3 separate regions of the Homo sapiens genome follow, and regions 1 and 3 are each linked to region 2. Evidence: fine-mapped expression QTL. A gene starts in region 2. Each other region holds a variant in brackets. All regions are shown on one strand. Distances are from middle to middle.

The links. PIP is the estimated chance that this variant, and not a neighbour inherited with it, causes the effect.
Region 1: its variant is the best candidate, but not a certain one, in a credible set for the expression of SPP1 in whole blood (INTERVAL, PIP 0.76).
Region 3: its variant is the best candidate, but not a certain one, in a credible set for the expression of SPP1 in testis (GTEx, PIP 0.51).

What each region holds. Positions count from the first base shown.
Region 1 is chr4:87,884,110-87,892,293 of GRCh38, forward strand. It overlaps the pseudogene HSP90AB3P. Among named protein-coding and RNA genes, the nearest start is that of MEPE, 55 kb to the left of the region's middle. RefSeq lists an enhancer at 7,921-8,184. The variant T/C (reference allele first, on the strand shown) is at 5,145.
Region 2 is chr4:87,970,992-87,979,165 of GRCh38, forward strand. It overlaps SPP1 (secreted phosphoprotein 1), which reads left to right and starts at 4,723. Exons shown (of 7, transcript NM_001040058.2): 1 at 4,723-4,809; 2 at 5,891-5,958; 3 at 6,068-6,106. The coding sequence starts at 5,905. It overlaps LOC124900730 (a long non-coding RNA gene), which reads right to left and starts at 2,778. Exons shown (of 2, transcript XR_007058172.1): 1 at 2,648-2,778. RefSeq lists promoters at 2,477-4,719, 3,719-4,806, 4,596-4,809, cis regulatory regions at 3,729-3,738, 3,954-3,962, 4,029-4,037, 4,475-4,490, 4,665-4,674 and 1 more and enhancers at 3,981-4,001, 4,364-4,863, 4,626-4,696.
Region 3 is chr4:87,921,328-87,929,511 of GRCh38, forward strand. No RefSeq gene overlaps it. Among named protein-coding and RNA genes, the nearest start is that of SPP1, 50 kb to the right of the region's middle. RefSeq lists enhancers at 380-907, 908-1,434. The variant C/T (reference allele first, on the strand shown) is at 4,317.

The DNA.
Region 1 (8,184 bases), 87 kb before region 2:
CACCAGGCCCTCTAACATTGGGGATTACAAATCAACATAATATTTGAGTGGGGACACAGATCCAAATTCTATCAAGGATTTTAACAGTAGAAATGAAAAGCAAATCTAAACAAATAACAAAAAATAAATATTCCTTACAATCATTTATTCAATTTTATGACAAGTCCATTAACATGATTGTACACAGTACATCATCAGAGGCAATAATGGGAAATATGTGCAGGCCCACATCTTTCCAAAATGCATATTCTGTATTATCTGAATATTTCCTAGCAGACGCTAGAAAAAATAAATGCTCCTCCCCAAAGCAAAGAGTGGTCAAGTGTCCATTTCTTCTTGGTTCTACTATTGCAAGAGGAAGAATTGTTTTCTTTTAGGAAAAAAAAAATTAGCTTCCTTCAAAGGCATTAAAGAAAAAGGGAAAATAAGGTGGCCACAAATCTTATTCTGGTAAAGTGCACCTGCTTAGGTATCTTATGTAAGTCTTATTTTTTACACTCTTTCTTTACCTGAACTCCCCAATACCTACACACACACAAAAAGAACATGTCTCTCTTCCATTGACACACACAAAAAAACTTTACTCACAAAAGAAGCAGAATTGTATCTTTTTTTTTTTTAAGTAAATTGATCTCTGCAAGCCATCACTTCATTGTGCCAGGAACTGGGTTTTAAACCCTATCTTCTCATCTAGGAATTGATTTGTGTTTAAAGGAAAAATAAAGCAGGAACAGGGACATTTCCTTTTTCACGCTCATTTGAAAAAAACAAAAACAAAAAACTAATGGTGAGGTTCTGCCTGGCCTAAATGCTTTCCAAAGGAGACAGTAAGCTCCCACACAAAAAAACTAATAACTTAAAATTTCCCCCTCTCTTGTCCTCATTTGGGCTTAAAATATTACCAAGTATTAATTTTAGTGTTCTGCCTGGCTATTAAATCACAAACCACACTGGCTGGTGAGAAACGAAGAAAGAAAAGAACCATTATTCACAGGCAAACCAGACAGTCCCACAAATAGCTCTATAAAAGTAAACTAAGTTATAATTTCTCTCTCCCTCATGAGTCAGAAGAGAAGGGTTCTAACTATCCAACTATGCAAGTTTGGGGTGGGAATTTTTAATTGGACAAGCAAACAATTTACTTAGAGATAAGAGATTAGCAGAGAAAGTATGATCGGGTTGGTAAAGATTTGCCTACATTTTCTCTTCTGATAAGACGGCGATACAGAGGCCAGAGAGCCTGAGACCCGATCAGACTTCCAGATGTGTTTCCTGCCACACGTGACTGCACAGCACAGACGGTTACACTGTCATTCTACCATGTCACCGTGCCTTTCTTTCTGCCTTGTCCAACCCGTTTCTCTCCACCTGCTGTCTATGACTTCTCCTTTCTTCCCTCAAAAATTCTCCACTCTCACCCTCCATTAGGCATCTCCCTCTCCAAATCTCTCAAAATATTGCCCATTTCTATTGTATGGTCTACCCTCATTTGTCTTTCTTAGTGTTCGCTGGGCACATCTTCCAACTAGACTTTCGTAAGGTCTGTGAGAATGATGAACTTGTCCTTTCTTATCTTTCAGTTCTCTCATGTGCTTTGAACATGAAATAAGTACACTACGTTTGCTAAATGTTTTCTAATTGATGTTCTTTTGTTAGTACATCCTTTTATTTCCACCCGTCTCCTCATACACCATGGAATAAAGCCAAGAATAAAGCTGGAGTGAGGGAGATGAAATGTGAAGTTGCGTGTAGCAGGTGGAGGAAGGAGGGAAGGAGGAAAGCTCGGGGGAGAGGAACAAGGATACATGAAGACAGAAATGTACAGTCAGACTTCCCTGAACTTGAGCCCAAGAGGCAAAGAGATAGAAAACCCAGATAAATTTCATGACAGGGTTGGGCATTTCCTAGAGCAGAAGGAATAATTGCCTGGCTTTCCGGGGAACAGTCAAGAAGAGATCAAGCTTCACAAGGAAACATAACATCCGAAAAGATGCTCCCCAGGATATAACAGAGACACAGTAGTGTGCTGTGATTAGGCAGACAGACAGTCAGATTAGCACTTGTTCTCCTCTCTAAGCTCTGAAGTGCGAGAGAGAAATCCGGAAACTCCAATGTGCCCCAGAGTAGGCACAGAAGAGAGCTGACCAGAGGGGTGGAAATCTTGCTGAGGGACAGCCATGGTGAATGACGTCATAAAGCAGGCAGGCTGGATTAAGGCTGCATGGATGACATGGCAGAGATGTGAGGGGCCTACAATGCCAGCAACCCCAGGTAGGGTTAAGGCAGCAGAGGAGAACCACTGGGCCCGACCCAACCGGGAGAATAGGTAACAAATTCACCAGCTGCAGATTTTGTCAGAGGTCAACAGGGCATTCAGCATCCACCAGAGGCCCCAGCAGAGAGTACAAGAGCAAAGGAATTTTCTTCTTGCTTTAACTAAGCAAGTTAGTGCTATAGTCAAGTTTAATTGATGTCTGCAGGAGGAATCACCAAAAAGGAGTAAAACTTGTTTCCAGTTACCAGTACAGAGATTCCCAATTAAAAAAGATATGGGCAGTACAAGGGCCCCACAAACTTTCAGTCCATGTACCAAATGAAGACAGAATTCACTCCAAGAGGCCACATACACCAGATCCAATCAGGGTCAATTTAAGTTCATCATAATGCCACGTTTTGTTGTCACTTGTTTTCTGACCCAACACTTTGCCTAACTTGTACTAACCTGCTCAGGGAAATTGTATCATATTCTCAGAGGTGGAAAGGTCTTGTATAAACAGAAATAAGTATTTACGGAAAAGAGTTATAAACTGAGAGTACAACAGGTTCAAGGCTATGGCTTTTGCAGGCTGGAAAAAGTAGTCATACGTAGGTGAGTGTGTTCTCCCCCACCTTAAAGTAGGGCCCTCTTTATCCTTCCACCAAACCAAACAAAAACACACAGACAACAATTACTCTTTCAAGCATTAGCTCCCAAAAGGCAAATTTGGATGACAATTTCATGGGTGACAGAAACACATATGCCACACAGAAAATAAAACAATAATAATAAAACACACTAAACATTTCTATTTTCTTTCAAATTCCCTGTCAGATGCCAAGTTCATATTTCTTCTCCTGGCTCAATCCTTCTCCAAGATAGTCTTCAAAATCTCGTCTAGCAAAGTTCACATCTGTCCCTAAATTTGCAAACCACATTAGGAAAATAAAATCCTAAATTCTAAAATGAACCCAGTGGTAATTGAGCAAACATCTCTTCCTCTTTCTCTTCCTCATGCCTCCACCCTAAGCAGAAGTCTCCATCCAAAAATAGTGGATTTATTCACAGGGGTACCTAATAAAAGTACATTAGATGCTGCCTATATATTTATAATTGTGTCACATGCATGTAGTTGCAGAAATCTGGTTTATAACTTAGGTGTGGAATTTAAAACTAGTAAAGCGATTGTATGTTCTCATGTGCCTCACTTTGTCTCCTGTCTAATGAGACATGAGACATAATGTTGCATAGATTCTCAATGCTCAGGCATATGCACTCATGTTAATATGCACTTTATTTTAATGCCATACTGAAAGACTAGGCACAATCATAGATGCTCAAGTATCACTGATATTGTAGGCCCTCTTCCAGCTACAACCTTGATTGTTTTCATACACACATTCTTTCCATCCACATCACATTTTCATTTTTCTCCATTTTTTAAATACGTCACGATTTTTAAAATGTGATCCTGTACCTAGCAGTGGCTTATTCTCTTATAGGTCTCCAAATCAGAGACAGGGAGATGAAATAGCTTAGGTAATTTATGAGTATTCCCATCATTTTCTAATGTGAGATATTCTTAAAAGTGTCTGGCTTTTGCCCTCAAATAAAGCTAAATTGGAATATCAGTTCTGCCACTTGTTAGTTTATTGATCTTGGATGAGTAAGAATCTCTCTGAGCCACAGTAAAATAATTAATAAAGCTTGTTATTACTTGTAAGAACAACATAACAATTGAGTGCCTACCATAACATTTGTGTGAAGATTTAATGAGATGATAAATTTAAGTTTCTCAGCCAGTACCTGGCACATAGCAAGCCAGTATGTATAAACTGTCATAAGGCAGGTGCTGGGCTAAAACTTTAATGTCTGTTATTGAATTTAATCCAGACAATACCCCTAGGACCTGCATACTTTACTGTCTCCATTTTAGCCAATGAGGAAACTGAGGGCTAAAAAGGTTAAATCACTTGCCTAGGATCACACAGTTGAAAATAATGAAGGGCCAAGTCTGTGTAACTCCTTATCTGTGAGATGGGCATAATAATTCTTTCCCTACAGTACTGTTCTCAGGATTAAATGAGCTAATACTGTAACATGTAACATGTAACAGTCACTCAGTACGTTTTCATTTCCTTCCTGTTCTGCCCATGTGTAACTCCTGACTTACAATTTATCCCATCAAATTAAAAATTATTAATAACTAAGATCAGAGCAGAATTGAAGGAGATAGAGATATAAAAACCCTCCAAAAAAGCAATGAATCCAGGAGCTGATTTTTTTGAAAAAATTAACAAAATAGATAGACCGCTAGCCAGGCTAATAAAGAAGAAAAGAGAGAAGAATCAAATAGACACAATAAAAAATGATAAATTGAATATCACCACTGATCCCACAGAAATACAAGCTACCATCAGAGAATACTATAAACACCTCTATGCAAATGAACTAGAAAATCTAGAATAAATGGATAAATTCCTGGACACATACAACCTCCCAAAACTAAACTGTCGGGGGAACCCACCCCCGATAATTCAACGTTATTTCACGTAGGTTCTTTTCTATTTCCCTAAGTGTCTGCTGGTCTGAGAAATAAAGGCAAAGAGCACAAAAGAGAGAAATTGTAAAGCTGGGTGTCCAGGGGAGACATTATGTGTCGGCAGGTTCCGTGATGCCCCCCAAGCCACAAAACCAGCAAGTTTTTAATAGTGATTTTCAAAGGGGAGGGAGTGTACAAATAGGGTGTTGGGTCACAGAGATCACATGCTTCAGAAGGTAATAAAATATTACAAGGCAAATGGAGGCAGGGTGAGGTCACAGGACCCGGGTGAAATTAAAATGACTAATGAAGTTTCGGGCACGCATTGTCATTGATAACATCTTA[T/C]CAGGAGACAGGGTTTGAGAGCGGACAACCGGTCTCACCAAAGTTTATTAGGCAGGAATTTCCTCGTCCTAATAAGCCTGGGAGCGCTATGGGAGACCAGGGCTTATTTCTTCCCTTACCTACAACCGTAAAAGACAGACATTCCCAGAGCAGCCATTTCAGAGACCTTCCCCTAGGAAGGCATTCTCTTTGCTGAAAAAAAGAATTCAGCGATATTTCTCCTATTTGCTTTTGAAAGAAGAGAAATATGGTTCTGTTCTGCCCAGCTCTCAGGCAGCCAGACCTAATGGTTATCGCCCTTGTTCCCTGAACATCGCTGTTATCCTGTTCTTTTTTCAAGGTGCCCAGATTTCATATTGTTTAAACAATTTGTGCAGTTAACGCAATCATCACAGGGTCCTGAAGTGACATACATCCTCAGCTTACAAAGATGACGGGATTAAGAGATTAAAGACAGGCATAGGAAATCACAAGAGTATTGACTGGGGAAGTGATAAATGTCCATAAACTCTTCACAATTTATGTTCGGGAGATTGCAGTAAAGACAGGCATAAGAAATTATAAAAGTATTAATTTGGGGGAACTAATAAATGTCCATGAAATCTTCACAATTTATGTTCTTCTGCCATGGCTTCAGCCAGTCCCTCCATTCGGGGTCACTGACTTCCCGCAACACTAAACCAGGAAGAAGTCAATAACAAGAATTATTATTTTACACCCAGCTTTACAATTTCTCTCTTTTGTGCTCTTTGCCTTTATTTCTCAGACTGGCAGACACTTAGGGAAATAGAAAAGAACCTACGTGAAATAATGTTGAATTATCGGGGGTGGGTTCCCCCGATAGTTTAGTTTTGGGAGGTTGTATGTGTCCAGGAATTTATCCATTTCTTCTAGATTTTCTAGTTCATTTGCATAGAGGTGTTTATAGTATAGAATAAATCTTGTTATTGAATAGATCAATAACAAGTTCTGAAATTGAGGCAGTAATTAATAGCCTACCAACCATAAAAAGCACAGGACCAGATGGATTCACAGCTGAATTCTACCAGTGGTATAAAGAGCTGGTACCATTCCTCCTGAAATGATTCCAAACAATTGAAAAGGAAGGACTCCTCCCTAACTCATTTTATGAAGCCAGCATCATCCTGATACCAAAACCTACCAGAGACACAATAAAAAAAAGAAAACTTAAGGCCAATATCCCTGATGAATATTGATGTGAAAATCCTCAATACAATACTGGCAAACCAAATCCAGCAGCACATTAAAAAACTTATCCACCACAATCAAGTCAGCTGCATCCCTAGGATACAAAGCTGGTTCAATATATGCAAATCAATAAATGTAATCCATCACATAAACAGAAGCAAAGACAAAAACCACATGATTTTCTCAATAGATGCAGAAAAGGCCTTTGATAAAATTCAACATCTCTTCAGGTTAAAAACTTTCAATAAACTAGGTATTGATGGAACATATCTCAAAATAATAAGAACTATCTATGACAAACCCACAGCCAATATCATATTTAATTGGCAAAAGCTGGAAGCATTCCCTTTGAAAACTGGTACAAGACACAGATGCCCTCTCTCACCACTCCTATTCAACATAGTATTGGAAGTTCTGGCCAGGGCAATCAGGCAAGATAAATAAAGAGTATTCAAATAGGAAGAGAGGAAGTGAAACTGTCTCTGTTTGCAGATGACATGATCCTATATTTAGAAAACCCCACCATCTGAGCCCAAAAACTCCTTAAGCTGATAAGCAACTTCAGCAAAGTCTCAGGATACAAAATCAATGTGCAAAAATCAAAAGCATTCCTCACACCAACAATAAACAAGCAGAGAGCCAAATCATGAACAAACTCCTATTCACAATCACTACCAAGAAAATAAAATACCTAAGAATACAGCTAAGATGGGATGTGAAGGACCTCTTCAAGGAGAAACATGAACCACTGCTCAATAAAATAAGAGTGAACACAAACAAATGGAAAAACATTCCATCCTCATGGATAGGAAGAATGAATATTGTGAAAATGACCATGCTGCCCAAAGTAATTTATAGATTTGATGCTATTCCCATCAAACTACCACTGACATTCTTCACAGAATTAGAAAAGAATTACTTTAAATTTCATTTGGAATCAAAGAAGGTCATGTATAGCCAAGACAATCCTAACCAAAAAGAACAAAGCTGGAGACATCATGCTACCTGACTTCAAACTATACTACAATAATGCAGTAACCAAAACAGTGTGGTACTGGCACCAAAACAGACAAAGACCAATAGAATGGAGCAGAGACATCAGAAATAATGCCACACATCTACAACCATCTGATCTTCAACAAACCTGACAAAAACAAGCAACAGGGAAAAGATCTCCTATTCAATAAATGATGCTGGGAAAACTGGCTAGGCATATGCAGAAAACTGAAACTGGACCCCTTCCTTACACCTTATACAAAAATTAACTCAAGATGGATTAAAGATGCTCTCAAGTCACTCCAGCACAGCGTTGGTGCTGCCTGGGTATCAGAAAGCAAGCTCACATTGCTCTCCAGTACGTGTAAGCCTTTTCTTTTCAAGATGCCTGAGGAAGTGCACCATGGAGAGGAGGAGGTGGAGACTTTTGCCTTTCAGGCAGAAATTGCCCAACTCATATCCCTCATCATCAATACCTTCTATTCCAACGAGGAGATTTTCCTTCAGGAGTTGATCTCTAATGCTTCTGATGCCTTGGACAAGATTCGCTATGAGAGCCTGACAGACCCTTCAAAGTTGGACAGTGGTAAAGAGCTGAAAATTGACATCATCCCCAACCCTCAGGAACGTACCCTGGCTTTGGTAGACACAGGCATTGGCATGACCAAAGCTGATCTCATAAATAATTTGAGAACCATTGCCAAGTCTGGTACTAAAGCATGCATGGAGGCTCTTCAGGCTGGTGCAGACATCTCCATGATTGGGCAGTTTGGTGTTGGCTTTTTTCTGCCTACCTGGTGGCAGAGAAACTGGTTGTGATCACAAAGCACAACGA
Region 2 (8,174 bases):
CCAACATGATAAAATTTCATCTCTACTAAAAAAAAAAAAAAAAAAAAATTAGCTGGGCATGGTGGTGCATGCCTGTAATCCCAGCTACTTGGAAGGCTGAGGCACAAGAATCGCTTGAACCCAGGAGGCAGAGGTTGCAGTGAGCCGAGATCGTGCCACTGCACTTCAGCCTGGGTGACAGAGTGAGACACTGTCTCAAAAATAAATAAATATGTTTAATCTGGGGCTTTATGAAGGCAACAGAAAATAATCAGCAAGAATAACTCAATTTATGTAAGAACTATATACATGTCATAATTGAGCTAAATTTCTTCACTGAATAAATATTTTTGGCACATAATCTGCAGAGGGATTAGCATATCATGGAACTTACACTCTATGAGGAATTCAAACATTAAAGAAGAAATCAAATTTTAATATAGAATATTTTAAATTACAGGTTTAAGAAACATAAATGTTATGCTATGGGATAGGGGCATTAATGTAAACTATGCCTTGACAAGAATTGTCGAAACAAAAAACCTTAGCCAAGTGTAACCAGAAAAATATCTGACTGAGCTGCTTTTGTTGTCTAGTTTTACTCCCCTTTCTTTTGATTTTGTTTTCTCTTTTGCACTGAAATTGTCACCTTTTCATATCAACCTTATGATAGATTCTCTACCAAAAATTACTCAAACATCAGATTTTAAGCAAGAATTCTCATAAACCAATTTCGGAGAATGATTTTCTCCCCTCAAATATATCTGCAAAATGACTGTCACTGACCGCTTATTGCCACAAAATGTCTTTTTCTGAACAAACAAGGTCCTCCTGCAGCTGCTAGACTTTCTATTTGTGCTTTTCCACCTTGTTCTATCTCCCTCTTTGGATCCTCTCTGATTACAGCCTCCTCTATTGTTCCCCAGGTTGTTATAGGTCTCGAGTTTATGCTGCTGTGGTTGATGTTGAGTGGGAAGGGGGACTTTCTGTTTGGATCCAATCCCAGAATACCCATCCCTTCAACTCCAATGTGGACACAGGGTCTCTACCATATACCTTCTCTACCCAGGGTGCTGCCAAGTTTACTGTTTAGCCACACCCCCTTAATCTCATTGGTTACTCAAGTTTCAAATTTCCTAGTTGATTTTCATGAACAAATGGGCTCCATGAGGGTAAGAATGGTGTCATTTAAGAAAAAAAAGTTAGTAATTTAAGTCTACCTTAAAAAAGTCTATCATTTAAAGAGCATTAGAATGTCCTCAGAGTTACTAATACTACTTTAATGAAGAAATAAATGCTAGATTCTTGAGTACAGGCAGATATTAGATATCAATATATGAGATATACTCTGAATTCAAGCATAGTGCCTATGCATTGTATTCATAAGCAAAAACTATAAGGTCAGAATTCGTGTCATAGATGCAGGGCTGAGTGGGCAATCACCAACAATTTATTGAGCACTTACTCCATAACAGTTCTATGTGTCTAAAGGAAAACTTTTTTTTATTTGTTTTAAATTGAAACTAATGTTTACCAATGGTACGACCACTTTGTCAGGAGCTGACTTTTGTTGTCTAAGCTATTGAGCAATGGAATAAAAGAGTTTATGGTGTTTTTGTTTTTTTTTTTTTGTATTTCTGAAATGCTCTAATTTCATGTCTGAACTTGAAAATAGCACCCTCTTATCATCCACCTTTGCTTGCTACCCTGTGATAAATAATGCCCCTTTTCCCAGTCTATATATGATGAATGGTGCTAGGCTTCCGATTAGCTTTAATTCCAAACTTCTTTATGACAGATTAGTGGTGTTACCAAAATATCAGAGTCATGTCTGAACCTTGACTCAAGGGAAAAAAATAATTACCTGTGGAGCTGAAAACACTGAAATAGTTGGTTACACTTTACTAAGTAAAATATAATTAGAAATGTTCAAATAAACTGGAAGTGAGTTTAATAAAGTTGTCCACCAAAGTAGTGACATTGAACACTTACTTTTTATTATATGGGAATTTTCATGTAATTCAGGAAAAAGACCTTAAGGCTCTTTATTTGTTTCCATGTGTCCTCTTAGTGTGTATAATTTAAGATCACAAATTACTCTTTGCATTCTAGTTTGACAACTAAACTTTTTTTACTTTCCACTCACAAGATTTATAGGGAATTTGTGCATTTTGACCTTTTGATTCTAACAACCAATCATTAGCCAATCAAGAATGGAAACTTTGGAAATATTACAGATAGAGCCACTGTGATTTAAATCATTTAACATGTTAATTCTGACAGAAAATCCTACTCAGAAAAAACAACCAGCAGCAGCATGTTTGAGTGCAAACAGCAAGAAACATCCCAAAACATGACCTCCCCGATAGTCAGAATGACGCAGCATCCATTTCCTACTTTACAGAATTGCCTCCCATTATAAATCACTTTATCTTCTCAACTCCAAAGCATCCCAGACACATTCTTTACCCGTGAATTCACAAGCCTTTTCTCTGAGAGAGGCCTTGGGACTAGGAACTTTTTGAATGAGTGTAGAAGTCGGGAAGGAGACAATAGTGTCAACTTGGGATTGCCTAAGGCAACAACAGAGCAAAACAAGAACGCTTTGGTTCTCTGGGTCTCTGTCCCTGATTGCATAGCGGGTCATTGTTGGGAAATATTTCCTCACCTGGCATTCCAAGAAATGGAGAGCTCCACAGCTGTATATAGTCCTGTCATTAAATACAGGAGTGTTCTATCCCGCTGGAATTAAGAAAATTGGTAGAACCAGATTGTGGTCTGAAATCTTTTTTCAGAAATGCTGCCATCGTGTGGCACTGCGGAGCTATGACCAGAAGAGTCCTGTAAAGGGTCGTATGGTTCATCTCAAGATGGCTGGGCTCCAGCATAATCTATTCCTATAATTAATTCTAGCTTCATATTGAATCATTCCCGTGGGCACAGAGTAAACTACAGTAAATCCTGTGGAAATTTTGTTGTTTTTAGAATTTTCAGACTTCCCTCCACTAAATTGACAACATGACACGCTTATGCGGGTATGTTTAAAGGAAAAAAATAGTTTTTAGAAGCAGAAAAAAGAAGTCTATTTTGCAACTTTATAATCTGTGTGCTTTCTATTTTATAGAGATAGTCGTCATCTTACTTATTAAAATGGGTGCTTATTACCTACAAACCAATCATATCAATTCATCTGGAATACATCCAATTTAAGGGAGACATATTTCCCCCTACCAAATGTTCATGAAACCTATGAATTAGCTATACACTATCACTGCAAGACATTATTTAATCTATATTTATATTAAAAGTAATATTTGGCAAAAGGAAGCTGACACTTTAGGACTAATAAAAACCACAATTACTTTTGCAGCAACCTAATAATAAATAGGACCATTTATTTTTCATCTCAATTACACACAAGTCTTAACAATAAAGGTGTAAGGTAAATAAATAGTGCAATCTGCATTTCACAACTGAGAAAGCAAATGAAGATAAGTAATCTCAAGGCAATATTAAATATTTTAAAAGGACCCAGAGCTCTGCTATCCCTGAATTCTGCTCTAATATTCGGACTTTCCCTGTAATTTTCTTTCATTCAGACACCTTTTAAATACCTAGTAAAGTGTTTTTTAATACAGAAATTTTTAAAAATGTTTTTCTTTTTAAGTGGCCTACTTTACATACCTTGGGAGAAAAACTAGAAAAAAAGATGATTCCAAAATCGAATCTGTTCCTTTAGAAATGTGCAAAATTTCCTTATTGATGCATACAATTTAAAGATCTTACGTCTACTCTCATTTTAATAACCTGTTCTTTTAAAGGACATTACAATTCGTGACTGCCTGCCCCTCTTAAAAATTTCATAATAGTTAACACACATATAGTCCTTAAGATACGCAGAGCATTTGCATCTAATATGTGCTAAGCATTGCTAGTTTAACATACTAATTCATTTAAACCCCTCAAAAACCCCATGACCTAGGTAATAGTATTGCATTTCATGGATGAGGGAACAAGGATAGGTAGGCTGGGCGATTTGCCCAAGGTTGCACAGGTCAGCAGTGACACAGCGGAATTCAGAACCACGGTCTGGCTCCTGAAGCAGCCCTCTCAAGCAGTCATCCTGCTCTCAGTCAGAAACTGCTTTACTTCTGCAACATCTAGAATAAATTACCATTCTTCTATTTCATATAGAATTTTATATTTTAATGTCACTAGTGCCATTTGTCTAAGTAACAAGCTACTGCATACTCGAAATCACAAAGCTAAGCTTGAGTAGTAAAGGACAGAGGCAAGTTTTCTGAACTCCTTGCAGGCTTGAACAATAGCCTTCTGGCTCTTCAATAAGTACAATCATACAGGCAAGAGTGGTTGCAGATATTACCTTTATGTTACTTAAACCGAAAGAAACAAAAATCCATTCTATTTAATTTTACATTAATGTTTTTCCCTACTTTCTCCCTTTTTCATGGGATCCCTAAGTGCTCTTCCTGGATGCTGAATGCCCATCCCGTAAATGAAAAAGCTAGTTAATGATATTGTACATAAGTAATGTTTTAACTGTAGATTGTGTGTGTGCGTTTTTGTTTTTTTTTGTTTTAACCACAAAACCAGAGGGGGAAGTGTGGGAGCAGGTGGGCTGGGCAGTGGCAGAAAACCTCATGACACAATCTCTCCGCCTCCCTGTGTTGGTGGAGGATGTCTGCAGCAGCATTTAAATTCTGGGAGGGCTTGGTTGTCAGCAGCAGCAGGAGGAGGCAGAGCACAGCATCGTCGGGACCAGACTCGTCTCAGGCCAGTTGCAGCCTTCTCAGCCAAACGCCGACCAAGGTACAGCTTCAGTTTGCTACTGGGTTGTGCATTCAGCTGAATTTCATGGGGAAGTCCAAATTCTAAGGAAAAATATTTTTAATTGTAATGCTGTTAAACAGACTTAAATTTTCTAGCCTTTTTAATAAGCAGATTAGATACATTGCAGGTCTCCTGGAACAAAGGTGTCTAGATATTTTGAATGCCAATCAAATTTAAAACTTAAAAATACTTCCACTGGGTCCTCAAAAGAACGGAAACCACCGATGCTAATCAGAAAATAGTAAAATTAAATTCCCCTTTGGAATAATTATACCTATATAATTTTCAGTGGGTGACTGTGCAGGAATTTAAAAGAAAAGGGATCTTTTATGCTAATTAAACCAATTACAATGCTATTTTTTAAATGATGTATCTCACTTTTAAGGGGAAGAAAACCCTTTCTGAATATGCCACTGCTAAATTTAGCTGTTAAAATATTCACCAAGATACCTGTATGACACTGTGTAGGCTTATTATTACAAATAGAAAAGCTGTTGGCTATTTTCAATGTTTTCCTTTGAATTTCAAATTTTTAGAACATCTTACTTAAATAACAAATTTCAGAGATAGTTTGATTTCACCTAAGTAGCACCTACTTGATAATTAAGCTAAAAGTCACATTTAAAGTACATGTTGGAAAAATGGATAAAGCAAATTTTTTTCATTTTTTTCTGTGAGTTTTTTCTTCTCTAAAAAATATTCCCATACTAGCTTATTAATATAATTAAGTTACTGTTGATCTGTTTGTAGGTTTAGAGAGCTAGATATATAAGGTAGTAATGGTATAATTTCTGGAACTCTAAATTTTAAAGTTGAATAAATACAGACTTGCAAAATTTCCCTTTCCCTTGCCTAATAGTGAAAGATGGATAATAGGTGGCAATATAAATATTAACTTGAAAGACTATAATACTAAAAAGAAAAGGCATCTCTAAGAAGTAGAAAAGATTCTATAGAAAATATATTTTATTTGTGATCATTTTGTAATGTGGTAGTATAAAAAGGTATCACTGTTGTAACCTATGAAGATGTCAGCTATTCCTTATGAAATATTTTGCAGGAAAACTCACTACCATGAGAATTGCAGTGATTTGCTTTTGCCTCCTAGGCATCACCTGTGCCATACCAGTGAGTACAGTTGCATCTTAAAGAAAATTCCTGAAAATAACTGAATTGTGTGCTTCCATGTGCTAGGAGGACATTCTTGTAATCTTTCTTCATCTTTTCTGTTTCTAAGGTTAAACAGGCTGATTCTGGAAGTTCTGAGGAAAAGCAGGTAAGCATCTTTTATGTTTTTATATAGTTAAATCATTTACTCAATTATGGCGAGAGGTGCAAGAAACGTATTTGCTGCGATATTACTTATCTTCTCAGTCAAATCCATTGGTTTACAAGTATTGATTGACTGCCTGCTATGAATCTAGGCCAGTACCAAGCACAGTATAGTTTTTAATAAATATAAGTTTATAAAACCAACCCAGATATTTTAAATATAATAATATCTAGGCATGTATGATGAGTTATCGCATGTAAGATAAGTTATATGAAGTTGTGTGACTTTTTTTCCATTAGTCCACATACTGATCTAAAAGCAGAAAATTCCAGCTTTTGCTTTGTTTAGTGGATTGCTAAGTTTAAAATTCACATTGGATATTAGTCAGAACTGTTTGTATGACCATAATATTCACAATATTGTCTGAGATATTAGCTGAGAAGCCCATTGTGAAAAGAAAGTCTATGTGTGCTGTTTGTATCTATTGTGATTGTCAGCTGATGTTAGATCACATTTTCTAACCAAACATAAGACCAACCAAACTCTTTATTATAATTATTTGACCAGCACTAAAGATGTACCTACCCCTCCACAACAGATGAAACTGTGCCAGCCAAACAACAAATGGGCATTGTCCCCAGAAGCTTGGACAAAAAGGCACACAGAGTTCAATTCCAGTTGAACAGAATAAAGGCCAAAATAGAGCTGCCTTGGGGGTCACTGCAATTAGACTGCTTAATGAAGACATTAAAAGAAGTATTCTGTGTTCGTTTGTGTGTGGAGGGGTGTGTGTGTCTGTTTTTCAACTGATTTGAAAATACAGGTGTTGAATCCTAATAATAAACCAGAAAAATTAACATCTCCAGAGAAGATAGAGGTCATACTATTTGAGGCAAGAATTAGCGTCTTTTTAATAAACGAAAATATGGCAAAGATGCATTTTAGAAGGCACGTGGAGCTATAACAATTTAAGAAATACGTGAAGAGCTCAAGGCTCAGCCTTCTAGAATCCCAGAAACTTAAAGCTAGTAAAAAATTGGGGAAGTCTCTAAGGATATATGCCTGAAAATACACACTGGTTATCTGTGAGTGTTAGGATTACTGGGTGGTTTTTAGTCTATTCATTTTGCTTACCTTTATTTTCTTCATATTAGTTTTTAAAAATTATAAATGTAACTTATACATCCATTCTCTCTGAGCCTGTATTACATGTGTCATGAGAATAGATAGATAGATATGAAAAAGTGAAGAGAAAAACTCTGAACTCATCTGGTCTCACTGTTTTTCCGCCTTCTTTTTTTTTTTTTTTTTTTTTTTTTGAGACGGAGTCTCGCTCCGTCGCCCAGGCTGGAGTGCAGTGGTGTGATCTCGGCTCACTGCAAGCTCCGCCTCCCAGGTTCACCCCATTCTCCTGAGTAGCTGGGACTACAGGCGCCCGCCACCACGCCCGGATAATTTTTTGTATTTTTAGTAGAGACGGGGTTTCACCGTGTTAGCCAGGATGGTCTCCATCTCCTGACCTCGTGATCCACCCTCCTTGGCCTCCCAAAGTGCTGGGATTACAGGCGTGAGCCACTGCGCCCGGCTGTTTTTTCATCTTCTTAAAGCAAGGAACCCCTTCTTTCAGCAAAACCTTTCGGAGAAGCCCAATACTAAGCTCCTCTGGTTAGAGCCAGCCATGAGAGAAACTCCAAGTACTTCTGACTGGTTCTCTCTCTACTCATCCACCCCTTAGGTGGCTGCAGAAGGAACTCTGTGCAACCCCCAGAGTTCTCATTCTCAGTGACAGGGAAATGTAATGATTGGCCCTGGATGATTCAGCAGATCAGATGATACTTACTCAGAGCAATTTCCACTCCTTTGCAGTAGCATATTATCAGTATTTTCCAGATAAATAACTTGGCTAAAGAAAAATCCATTTCATTTACATCTTTGGCACCTTACAGCAATAGAACTTTTGTGCAATGATTTTAATATTATATTTCTACATTGGCTGATAAGATACATATGGCTATTGAGCACTCAAAATGTGGGCTAGTGCAACTGAGGAACTGAATTTTTATCTTCTTTT
Region 3 (8,184 bases), 50 kb before region 2:
GGCCTTGGTTATTCATATTTGGCTTAGAATAAATCCTTTCAAATATTTTACAAAGTTTGACTCTTTTTCATCCACAATGTTAACCTTATTGCAGTAAAACAAAGAAATATTCCCGCTACACAAGAGAAAGACTATGAAAACCTTCACAGTAATTCAGGTCAGGTTTTGCTATCAAATGAATTTTTAAAAATGTTTGTTTTCATGCTTTCATAATTTCAGAATTGTAGATAAGGGATTTTGGACCTGAATTGCCTACTCTCTGTCACTTGAAACCTTACTCAATTTCTAAGTTTGCCCAACCTTTCTTCCCTGAGCTTTTCCTCCTTCTCTCCTTTCTTCTATGACTAGTTGTTCCATTTCCTGTCTCCTTATCTTCTTTCCTTCCCAAGACTTTTAGAAGAACAGTTAATTTTTCGTTGATGCCCTTACCAATCTGCACAAGCAAATTTAAGTAGAAACATCTGTACATCCCTTATGTCAGGCCTCTGAGCCCAAGCCAAGCCATCGCGTCCCCTGTGACTTGCACGTATACACGCCCAGATGGCCTGAAGTAACTAAAGAATCACAAAAGAAGTGAATATGCCCTGCCCCACCTTAACTGATGACATTCCACCACAAAAGAAGTGTAAATGGCCGGTCCTTGCCTTAAGTGATGACATTACCTTGTGAAAGTCCTTTTCCTGGCTCATCCTGGCTCAAAAAGCACTCCCACTGAGCACCTTGCGACCCCCACTCCTACCCGCCAGAGAACAACCCCCTTTGACTGTAATTTTCCTTTACCTACCCAAATCCTATAAAACGGCCCCACCCCTATCTCCCTTCACTGACTCTCTTTTCGGACTCAGCCCACCTGCACCCAGGTGATTAAAAGCTTTATTGCTCACACAAAGCCTGTTTGGTGGTCTCTTCACACAGACGCGCATGAAATTTGGTGCCGTGACTTGGATCGGGGGACCTCCCTTGGGAGCTCAATCCCCTGTCCTCCTGTTCTTTGCTCGGTGAGAAAGATCCACCTACGACCTCAGGTCCTCAGACTGACCAGCCCAAGGAACATCTCACCAATTTTAAATCAGGTAAGCAGCCTCTTCTTACTCTCTTCTCCAACCTCTCTCACTGTCCCTCAACCACTTTCTCCTTTCCACTCTTCACTCTCCCTTCTCTTAATTTCAATTCCTTTCATTTTCTGGGAGAGACAAAGGAGACATGTTTTATCCGTGGACCGAAAACTCCGGCGCCGGTCACGGACTGGGAAGGCAGCCTTCCCTTGGTGTTTAATCAATGCAGGGACGCCTCTCTGATTATTCACCCACATTTCAAAGGTGTCAGACCACGCAGGGACGCCTGCCTTGGTCCTTCACCCTTAGCGGCAAGTCCCACTTTTCTGGGAAAGGGGCAAGTACCCCAACCCCTTCTCTCCTTGTCTCTACCCCTTCTCTGCTTTTCTGGGGGAGGGGCAAGTACCCCTCAACCCCTTCTCCTTCACCCTTAGCAGCAAGTCCCGCTTTTCTGGCGGAGGGGCAAGTACCACAACCTCATATCTCTGCGCCCCAATCCCTTATTTCCGTGCCCCAACCTCTTATATCTCTGCACCTCAACCCCTTATTTCTGTGCCCCAACCCCTTATTTCCATGCCTCGACCCCTTATTTCTGCGCCCCATCCCTTATTTCCATGCCCTGACCTCTTATCTCTGTGCCCCAACCCCTTTTCCCACTTTTCTGGAAAGTAAGAACCCCCAAACCCCTTCCCTCTGTTTCTCTACTCTCTCTTTTCTCTAGGCTTGCTTCCTTCACTATAGGCAAGCTTCCACCCTCCATTCCTCCTTCTACTCCCTTGGCCTGTGTTCTCAAAAACTTAAAACCTCTTCAACTCATACCTGACCTAAAACCTAAATGCCTTATTTTCTTCTGCAATGCCGCTTGACCCCAATACAAACTCAACAGTAGTTCCAAATAGCCAGAAAATGGCACTTTGAATTTTTCCATCCTGCAAGATCTAAATAATTCTTGTCGTAAAATAGGCAAATGGTCTGAGGTGCCTGACGTCCAGGCATTCTTTTACACATCAGCCCCTTCCTAGTCTCTGTGCCCAGTGCAACTCGTCCCAAATCTTCCTTCTTTCCCTCCCGCCTGTCCCCTCAGTATCAACCCGAAGCGTCGCTGAGTCTTTCTAATCTTCCTTTTCTACAGACCCATCTGACCTCTCCCTTCCTCCCCAGGCTGCTCCTCACCAGGCCGAGCTAGATCCCAATTCTTCCTCAGGCTCTGCTCCTCCACCCTATAATCCTTTTATCGCCTCCCCTCCTCACACCTGGTCTGGCTTACAGTTTCGTTCCGTGACTAGCCCTCCCCCTCCTGCCCAGCAATTTACTCTTAAAAAGGTGGCTGGAGCTAAAGGCATAGTCAAGGTTAATGCTCCTTTTTCTTCATCCCAAATCAGAAGCGTTTAGGCTCTTTTTCATCAAATATAAAAATCCAGCCCAGTTCATGACTTGTTTGGCAGCAACCCTGAGACGCTTTACAGCCCTAGACCCTAAAAGGTCAAAAGGCCGTCTTATTCTCAAAATACATTTTATTACCCAATCTGCTCCCAACATTAAATAAAACTCCAAAAATTAAATTCCGGCCCTCAAACCCCACAACAGGATTTAATTAACCTCGCCTTCAAGGTGTACAATAATAGAAAAAAGTTGCAATTCCTTGCCTCCACTGTGAGACAAACCCCAGCCACATCTCCAGCACACAAGAACTTCCAAACGCCTGAACCGCAGCGGCCAGGCGTTCCTCCAGAACCTCCTCCCACAGGAGCTTGCTACATGTGCCGGAAATCTGGCCACTGGGCCAAGGAATGCCCGAAGCCCGGGATTCCTCCTAAGCTGCGTCCCATCTGTGTGGGACCCCACTGAAAATCGGACTGTTCAACTCACCTGGCAGCCACTCCCAGAGCCCCTGGAACTCTGGCCCAAGGCTCTCTGACTCCTTCCCAGATCCTCTCGGCTTAGCGGCTGAAGACTGACACCGCCCGATCGCCTCGAAAGCCCCCTAGACCATCACGGACGCCGAGCTTCAGGTAACTCTCACGGTGGAAAGTAAGCCCATCCCCTTCTTAATCAATACGGAGGCTACCCACTCCACATTACCTTCTTTTCAAGGGCCTGTTTCCCTCGCCTCCATAACTGTTGTGGGTATTGACGGCCAGGCTTCTAAACCTCTTAAAACTCCCCAACTCTGGTGCCAACTTAGACAATACTCTTTTAAGCACTCCTTTTAGTTATCCCCACCTGCCCAGTTCCCTTATTAGGCTGAGACACTTTAACTAAATTATCTGCTTCCCTGACTATTCCTGGACTACAGCTGTATCTCATTGCCTCCCTTCTTCCCAATCCAAAGCCTCCTTTGCATCCTCCTCTTGTATCCCCCCACCTTAACCCACAAGTATAAGATACCTCTATTCCCTCCTTGGCGACCAATCATGCACCCCTTACCATCTCATTAAAACCAAATCACCTTTACCCCACTCAACGCCAATATCCCATCCCGCAGCAAGCTTTAAAAAGATTAAAGCCTGTTATCACTCGCCTGCTACAGCATGGCCTTTCAAAGCCTATAAACTCTCCTTACAATTCCCCCATTTTATCTGTCCTAAAACCAGACAAGCCTTACAAGTTAGTTTAGGATCTATGCCTTATCAACCAAATTGTTTTGCCTATCCACCCCATGGTGCCAAACCCATATACTCTCCTATCCTCAATACCTGCCTCTACAACCCATTATCCTGTTCTATATCTCAAACATGCTTTCTTTACTATTCCTTTGCACCCTTAATCCCAGCCTCTCTTCGCTTTCACTTGGACTGACCCTGACACCCATCAAGCTCAGCAAATTACCTAGGCTGTACTGCCACAAAGCTTCACAGACAGCCCCCATTACTTCAATCAAGCCCAAATTTCTTCCTCATCTGTTACCTATCTCGGCATAATTATCATAAAAACACATGTGCTCTCCCTGCCAATCGTGTCCAACTGATCTCTCAAACCCAAGCACCTTCTACAAAACAACAACTCCTTTGCTTCCTAGGCATGGTTAGCGCGGTCAGAATTCTTACACAAGAGCCAGGACCGCACCCTGTAGCCTTTCTGTCCAGACAACTTGACCTTACTGTTTTAGCCTAGCCCTCATGTATGCATGCAGCGGCTGCCGCTGCTTTAATACTTTTAGAGGCCCTCAAAATCACAAACTACGCTCAACTCACTCTCTACAGTTCTCATAACTTCCAAAATCTATTTTCTGCCTCATACCTGATGCATATACTTTCTGCT[C/T]CCCGGCTTCTTCAGCTGTACTCACTCTTTGTTGAGTCTCCCACAATTACCGTTGTTCCTGGCCCAGACTTCAATCCGGCCTCCCACATTATTCCTGATACCACACCTGACCCCCATGACTGTATCTCTCTGATCCACCTGACATTCACCCCATTTCCCCAAATTTCCTTCTTTCCTGTTCCTCACCCTGATCACGCTTGATTTATTGATGGTGGTTCCACCAGGCCTAATCACCACACACCAGCAAAGGCAGGTTATACTATAGTACAAGCCACTAGCCCGCCTCTTAGAACCTCTCATTTCCTTTCCATCGTGGAAATCTATCCTCAAGGAAATCACTTCTCAGTGTTCCTCAAGGAAATAACTTCTTATATGATGCAGCATATTCATTAAACAAGTGGTTTCCCATGCTTGGGAAACCATATGTCCAAGATTCAAGGGCTGGAGGTGAGAATGGACTTTATTATACCAAATATTTGTTTTGGGGAATGTTTTCTTCCCATCCATGCAATCTTGGATTCTGTGGGTTTATAGTAACAGAAGGAGAAACGAATCCCTAAGGGAATACAATAATAGTTCCATTGAATTAGAAACTGAGATTGCCCACTGGCCATTTCAGGCTGATGAAGCAAAGACAGAGAAGAGCTTATTGCATGTACTGGCTGGGTGATTGATCCTGATTACCAAGGAGAAACAAATGTGCAGTGGGGGTGAGGAGGATTATTTATGGAACCCCAGTGGGGTTTGTGGCTACTTAGGACTTTATTACCCCACGGCCCTTGGCAATAGAAAATTGTGGCAGTGTAGTAAAGATAGGACCACCAAATGGCTCAGCTCCTGTAGGACTAAAGTTTGACTCAGGCAATCAGGTTAAAAATCCATTCAACCAAGATACTTTCATAGAATAAGGAAACATGAAATGGGCATTGGAAGAAAGATGCTGTGGTTAACAACTTAGACATACTAACCAGTTACAGAAGCAGAGATTTTAACAGCTATGGCCTCTGATCATTGTTTCTTATCCCCATGTTTCCTCCCACTCCTTTTATGAAGAGCACTGCTGATGGCTAACATTTTTAGGTTGCAAGTGTTCTGGCCTTGAAGATATGGTAACTGGTTGGGAACACAAAGTTGTCACCTAGGCAAAGGATGAGAGTGGATGTCAAGAAGCAAGGCTATGCTGGATCCTTTCTGCTGTTCTACCAGATCCATCCTCCACCGTCATCTATCATTGTCTGTGTGGATCTTGATCAACGGACTTTGCCTCTGGCTCCTGATTGGGTTTGCCCAATGGGAAGCAGAAGAGAGTGAAGTTGTGGCTCCTTCTTTTCACAGAGCTGCAGGTTGGCCATGCCCATTTCCTCCAGTCTACAGCCCTTTTCCGCTGGAATTCACCACCTAACAACTTCCTCGGGTTTAGATAGCCACTGAACTATCTTACCCCTTCAGGGTTAAGGGGTAATGGGTTCCCCTCTATTAGTAGCCAGTGGGTAATTAACTATCTCTGGTTTGTTCCTTAAAACCTGCCCATAATAGTCTCTTTAAATAATTCTCCTCAAATTACCTGGCCTGAGTATGTCCCACTGGAATTTTGATTAATGCACATTCTTAGTTTGTTCTTTACAACCACTCAATGGCATAGATGGGTATGTGATGTCACTTTCCTCATGCTTAAAATGTTTTAGTGCCTTGTAATTGTAATTGAAATAAAATCCAAAGAGTATGGTTTGCAAGGCCATAGTTGACCTGGTGTCTGCCTCCCTCTCCAAGCCAATCTCTCCCCTCTCTCCTTCAATCCTGTTTCACAAAGTCGTGTTAAGATCCCCGGTAGCTCTTTCTCTTGAGGTGCTCATCCCCGAGATCTTCCTGCCTGTACTTCAAATTTCAATTGAAATATCACCTCCTTAGAGTCTTTCCCTAGTTATTCAGTCAAAAGCAGTCATCTAAACACCGTCACATTATCTTATGTTAACTCTTCTCACAGGACTTAATAACAAGCAATTAACACTTGCTGATATTTTCTTGTCTATTTTTATACCTTTAATCATCTATCAATCATGTCTTTCTTCCTTCCTTCCTTCCTCCCTTCCTCCATTCCTCCCTCCCTCCCTCTGTCTCTTTTTTCTTTCTCTTTCTTTCTCTTTCTTTCTTTCTTTCTTTTCTTTCTTTCTTTCTTTCTTTCTTTCTTTCTTTCTTTCTTTCTCTCTTTTTCTTTCTTTCTTTCTTTCTTTCTTTCTTTCTTTCTCTCTTTCTTTTCCTTCTCTCTCTCTCTCTCCCTTTCTCTTGCTTTCTTGCATTCTTTCTGGCTTTCTTGTTTTCTTTCTTGCTTTCTTGCTTTTTTTTCACGGGGTCTCATTCTGTTGCCCAGGCTGGAGTCTGAAGTGCAGTGGTGTGATCATGGCTCACTGCAGCCTTGACCTCCCTGGGGTCAGGTGATGCTTCTGCCTCAGCCTCCCAAGTAGCTGGGACTACAGGTGTGTACCACCATGCCCAGCTAATTTGTGTGTGTGTGTGTGTGTGTGTGTGTGTGTGTTTGTAGAGGCAGGGTTTCACTGTGTTGTCCAGGCTGGCCTTAAACTCCTGGGCTCAAGTGATTCTCCCACCTCGGCTTCCCAAAATGCTGAGATCACTGGCATGAGCCACTGCACCTGGCCCCACTATTTCTTTAGATGAAAAATTTCCTGAGGACTAGCTTTTAATATTTGTTGATATTAAATTAAAAAGCAGGGATTAGCTCCATCCTATAGAGAAGGTAACAGGAGTTCAGAGGTTACAGTTATTAGTGTCAGAATCAGCACCTCTGACTTCTGATATCCATATACCAGAGTCTATTCCTCATCTGATTTCCCAAGCCTAAAAATGTTGTGGGAAAGGCATGTAATCAATCTAAGTGTCTATCAATGAATGAATGGATAAAGAAAATGTGGTATATATACACAATGAAATAATCAGCCGTAAAAACGTAAAATGCCATTTGCAACCATCATGGGTCAACCGAAAGGATATTATGTTAAATGAAATCAGCCAGACACAGAAAAACATATGTCTCATGATCTCACTGATATGTGGAATCTAGAGAAGCTGATCTCGTAGAAGTAGAGAGCAGTGGTAACAGTGGTTACTGGTGGGATGGTTGGCGGGGAGGAGAGATGGGAAGAAGTTGGTCAAAGGATACATAATTATACTTGGATAGGAAGAATAAATTTTAAGAGAACTATTTTATGACAAGGTGACTGTAGTTAATGATGATATAATGTATTCTTGAAAAAAATGTAAAGACAGTGGACGTTATGTGCTCTTAACACAAAAATTATAATGATGTTATGTAATGCGTCTTGTTAATTAGCTAGATTTAGCCATTCCACAATGCATATGTACTTCAAACCATCATGTTGTATCTGATAAAAACATGCAATGTACTCTGTCAATTTTAAAAAGTAAATTTTAAAGGTGTAGGAGAAAAATAAAATTAAAATGCTATGGGAGATGAAATACTAGGAGGTAGTGAGCACACCTTAACTTATGTGAGACGAAACTCCTGGAAAAATAATGGGGAGCCTTCTATCTTCTTAGCCCATTGCTAGATTTAGAAATGAATTGTTCTCTGATACTAAATTACCACTCCCAAAAAGGAACACAAAGCTGTTGAGCAATTCAGTAAGATATTAAGAAGATGTTCCATGATTTAGCAGCCAAAATAACTTTGTTAAATATTTGGTTAATGTCTCTTTACTGTTCTAGGAATTCCTAGAGCCTTTAATATGTTTCTTGTGAAGCAGGCAGATGTACTATGCAAAGCTACTCCAACTGATTAGAATAGAAAATACTTTTATGAGAATCCTATTAATACCTCATAGAACATGCATTT